Linked DNA regions of Homo sapiens: region 2 is linked to region 1. A link means that fine-mapping ties the variant in region 1 to the expression of a gene that starts in the linked region. Tissue or cell type: esophagus muscle. Region 1 holds a variant in brackets; the other region holds the start of a gene. All regions are shown on one strand. Distances are between the middles of the regions.

Evidence for each region. PIP is the estimated chance that this variant, and not a neighbour inherited with it, causes the effect.
Region 2: it holds the start of KIFAP3, and the variant in region 1 is fine-mapped to the expression of KIFAP3 in esophagus muscle (GTEx, PIP above 0.99).

What each region holds. Positions count from the first base shown.
Region 1 is chr1:170,223,255-170,225,943 of GRCh38, reverse strand. All of the region lies in intron 1 of LINC01681 (long intergenic non-protein coding RNA 1681), which reads right to left. Among named protein-coding and RNA genes, the nearest start is that of LINC01681, 50 kb to the right of the region's middle. The variant C/G (reference allele first, on the strand shown) is at 1,260.
Region 2 is chr1:170,073,154-170,075,842 of GRCh38, reverse strand. KIFAP3 (kinesin associated protein 3) reads left to right here and starts at 1,148. Exons shown (of 20, transcript NM_014970.4): 1 at 1,148-1,407. The coding sequence starts at 1,376. RefSeq lists enhancers at 920-1,219, 1,280-1,339.

The DNA.
Region 1 (2,689 bases):
CAAGCCAACTCACATCTAGCTAAACAGTGTGTGCCTGCTAGGCCCAAAGGAAAAGGCCTGCTTGTTATTTTGAGTTGTCCAGGATGCATTTATGACTCAATAAAGGAGGCCTTGGCATTACCAGAATAATTACTTACTAAAACAAGCCTATAAAACCAAAATGTTGCCTCAACTAAAAGGCAAACAGAGAACATTCTTTTTCTTTTAGTGTTAACATGTAAACCTAGTGAAGTGTATTTAGATTTCTATAAAATCAGCTCTGGGTGCAAAAGGGATGGTTGATTTACCAGGTGGACAGCATCACCAATGCCCCGGGGTTACAAAGGGGCTAAGGGGAAGTGGTCCTGTCAAATATGAAAGGATGCTCATCCATAATGGACCCGGCCTTGCTTGTCACAGGCAGAAATTATGGCTTGGTGGTGAAGAAGCAGACTCCGGAGTCTGACAGTGGGATCTGAGGCTGCACCACCGTAAGCAGTGTGATGTCGGCCGTGACCCAAACTCTCTGTGTCTCATCTGCATGGTGGAGATAATGTCATATCTGTTTTATGGGATCATTGAAAAAAAATGAATAAAATAATACATGTAAACGGCTTCTTAGAACAACACATGGTATAGAATATGGCACACAATGGTAGCTCCGATGTTTACAAATAATGGGATCCATTATTGTAACAAAAGTAACTTTCATTTTTTACATATATTAGTAATAAGCATAAAATTTTTAAATATTGTTAATTCTGCCTTTTATTCTTTCATTTGAAATGTTTTTATTTCATTTCATTTTTAGTTGACAAATAACTATATAAATATGAGGTGCAATGTGATGTTTTCATATATACATGCATTGTAGAATGACTAAATCTACCTATTTAGCATATCCATTACCTCATGTACTTATCATTTTTGTGTGGTAAGAACATTTAAAATCTACTCTTTTTGCAGTTTTGAAATATGCAACCTGTAGTCATCATGCTGTACAATAGGTTACTAAAACTTATTCCTTCTGTCTAACTCAAACTTTATACCCTTTGACCAACATCTCCCCTTTCTCCATCACCCCTCCCATCCCCACCAGCCTCCGGTAACCACCATTCTACTCTCTATTTCTTTGAGTTTGACTTTTTTGTGACAACATGGATGAACCTGGAGGACATTATGCTAAGTGAAATAAGCCAGACACAGAAAAACAAATACTACATGAGCTCACTTACATGTGGAATCTAAAAAAGAATAAATATTTTTGGAACACTAAGTGT[C/G]AGCACATAGTGTCTGACACTATGCTAAGCATTTCAAATAGTGTATCCCGCTTAATCCTCTCAAGGTAAAATTCCTATCCAACCTCTGGTAAGTGGAGAACTAGAAATAGGGTTGCCAGATTTAGCAAATAAAAATACAAGATAACTAGTTAAATATGTATTTCAAACAATAAATATTTCTTTAGAATAAGCATGTCTGAAGGGTCGCAAGGGATAGAGTTACATATCTTACAACCCTAACTAGAGACCAAGATCCCAGATCTATTTCATCCAAAGCCCATCCTCTTTCTACCCTCACTACACTAAACTACAGGCAGAATATAACTTATTCTTTGTATATTTCTTTCTTTAGTGACATGGTTTGGCTGTGTCCCCACCCAAGTCTCATTTTGAATAATATCCCCCATAATTCCCACGTGTTGTGGAAGGAACCTGATGGGAGATAACTGAATCATGGGGACGGTTTCCCCCATACTGTTCTCGTGGTAGTGAATAAGTCTCACAAGATCTGATGGTTTTATAAGGGGTTTCCCCTTTTTCTTGGCTCTCATTTTCTCTTGCCTGCCACCATGTAAGATGTGACTTTTGCCTTCCACCATGATTGTGAGGCCTCTCCAGCCACGTGGAACTGTGAGTCCATTAAACCTCTTTTCTTTATAAATTACCCAATCTTGGGTATGTCTTTATCAGCAGCATGAAAATGGACTAATATACCTAGTATTTTTTCCCAAACAAGAAGTTTCTTCAGGAAGAAATATATTGTTCATAAATTGCATTTGGTTATCAACTATCAGGGAAAGTAAAATGCTGAGGCCAAGTAAGATAAACCATTGCAGCTGGCTAAAGCGCTGCCACTTCAAGAGCTGTCACATCAAATCTCTTTGTTTTCCTGAAATTATGATCTTAGGACATGTCAGCAATTACTAAAAGCCTTTAAACACAAAGTATCCAAATAATATTATATGTTGGGAAAAAATATTTTTGCATCACAACTTACAGCTATAAATTTTACTTTAAAGTATTTTAAAATTTTTTTCTCAATGATAAAAATCCACAATCTTACTCACTCATTCAACAAATATTACTGATTGTCTCTATGTCAAGGCACTATATAGATGCTAAATAAGCCAAACAAACACCATCCTTGCCCTCATGGATTTACACTCTAGTGAAGGAGCATAAGATAATTAAATAAGCACAAACACAAATGCATAGTCACAACCATCACAAGATCTATGGAAAAGTACATGAAGAGATGAGCCTAATAGTGGGACTTGAGTTCAGAGAGGGCTTCCAGGAAGTGGTTATACCTGAGCTGAGACCTGAACGATGAGAAGGATTTAACCAGAAAGTATTAATGGGAGGGTTAATAGCATATGCAAAGATCCCCTGGGATAAAGGAGCATGGCAAGGATGAGGAACTGAAAGAT
Region 2 (2,689 bases), 150 kb after region 1:
ATGTAGAAAAAAACTGGACTACCTGAATATCTTGAAGGAAGAAAAGATAGAATTTTGTAACACTTTAGTAAGAGGGCATGATACAGAGGAAGGAGTCAAAATTAGCTGCAAATTTTCTTCCCTTTCAGAATGAAAGAATGACTATAACATCTACAGAAATAGTGTAGCTGGTGTGAATGGGTGGGAAGATAAAAATATATTTTGTTGGGTAAGGACTGTATTTCTATATTTAATATACCATGCAGTGCCTTAACATGGTGTTTTACACATAACGGATAATCAATAATTGCATCAATGTACTACATTTGAAAAAAGCAGCAGAGCAACTACGTGCACGTCTCAAAGCAACTGGGAAAACAGGACTAGAAGACAGTGAATAAGTGACAAGATTATAGGTGAGCAGGGGGAGTAGAGGTGCTTTCTTTGCATCCCTAGAGCCTGGTTTGGTGTTTGGCACACAGCCAGCCCTCAATTCACATTTACCAAATAAATGAACCTATATCATTTGCATAGACATAATAGCTGAACCCATGGGAATAGATCTTAAACCAGAGAACATGCAGTTAAAAAAGAACCCTTCTTTCCTATGCCCTGCACTGCTAACAATTGCCTGCCTCAGAAGAAGCAATTCTAAACATACCTTGAGTTCAGGATAATTGGTGGAGTTGGAATTTCAGGAACTGTTTTTTGTTGCTGTTGTTTGTTTGTTTGTTTGTTTGTTTTGGTTGGGGGAGGTGTATTCTAGATTTAAGACATCAAAGTGACAGACTTGCCGCCTTCAAAGTTATATCCATTTTGTACAACGGTCAGATTATCTCCATAAGTTAGAGCTTGTAAGTGCAATCAGGGCCATTCAGGCCCCCAAATAGAAACCTCCCTTATTAGCTGGACTGCTGTATAGCATTCGCTAACTAAAAGGTTATCGGATTCCCCTCTCTCCTTTCAAGCTGACCTGACAGCCCTTTCTATTCCCATCCTCAAGGGGGCGGTGACTACGGAGCCACTCCTTATACACGGACGCTCAAAACTGCACCAAAACTTCCCTGCTCGGCTCCCCGGTGCGTCAAACTCTGAGGCCACCGCCTCAGACTGAGCCTGCGCATACAAGAGGTGCAGAGCAAGCGCATGCGTCGTGACGGCCCGGCTTAGGCGACTCTGGGCGGGTCTGGGCCGCTCCAGTGTTTTGGGGCACAGAAGCTGTGGGAGGAGCTGGAGGCTTCACCGTGGTAACCACAGCGCCGCTGCTGCCCCGCCTTGCAGGCCTCAGGACTGTCATCGCCTCTGGGTGTGAGGGTACTTTGGCCACCGTCCCCGGAAATAACCGCGCCTGCCTCTCAAGATACCCCATCCTCTCCACGCCGCTGCCGCTGCCGCCATGCAAGGGGAGGACGCCAGATACCTCAAAAGGTGACGACTCCCCAAGGCTCTGTCCTACCCTCCTTGCCAGGGCCCTGAAGATGTTCTTGGGTTGGCTGTGAGATGTCACTGGGCAACGCTAGTTTAGCAGACGGGATGGGAAGCAGGGAGAGAAGTCACCGAAAGGAGAGGGAAAAGGTGAAGTGGAGAAAAAAGGAGAGCTCTGGGGGGGTTTCAAAGTCCTTTGACCTGACTCGGCGGAGCCCTGACAGCATTGAAAGATGGTTTCTTCGCTACATCACCTTATTCCAGGGGGAGAGGGAGGTAGGGCAAGGTAAACCGCGTCTTTTGTTTTTTTTTTCGCCTCTTCCCAGACTCTCCATTTTCCCATAATAGATAAATCCCATGAGAGCCTGGGAATAAAGTCTGGTGCATCCGCCCTCAGGCCTCAGTTTGGGGTTCATTGCCATGGGCTTTTGAAATGATGAAGGGGAAAGAAGTGGTGGATTCTACTTTTTGGAAGGCTGAATTGAGATGTTGATTTCCAGTCTCTTTCTGCTTTCCGCATCCATGTCATCCATTTGACTCCCATGTATACAACATAATTTTTGTAGGACATTTAGTAATTATTAAGAGGTTTGTTCAGAAGTTTGATGACAATAAAATAGGCCATAATTTCTTTTAAATATAGTATCAGTTACTCAAAAAAATTGTAGTCTGTTGGGATTATTTGGGTGCTGGCAAATACTCAGATCATTCCTGATTTGGAAAAAAAAAAAGATACCTCCCACTGAACCAAGAGTAAGCAGTGATCCAATAGAAAAAAATTTTAATTCAGTACTGATTCAGTAAATACCCTGGAAAAGTCGCATGTATTCCTTTGGGCACGGTTTCCTCATCTGAAAATGGGACAGGCGTTACCTTCTGAGAGATACAAGGACGAAAGATGAAATACTTTTAAAAAATGAAACATGAATGTAAGGTGGTGGTATTATTTCAAGTCATAATACACTTGCAGTGAATATTTTTATTCTGGCTTGGCTGAGCTCTCATCATCACAGAAAGATCTTCCAAGTGTTAGTAGACTCATAGAAGGGATTCAAACAATTGTATAATAAATAAATCAACTCTATTGTCCTGGCAAGACAGGCATATATTGACTGTCTTTTTTATTTTATGTAAATATATCTGAAACTGGCAAATAGCCAGACTTTGTCAGTAAAAATTTTTAAATGAATATATAAGCCTACATCAGTGTTTATTTCCTCACTGAATTTTACTTAACGTTGGTTTTTAAAATACCTTGGTTAAAAATTTTGTGACAGAAGAAAAT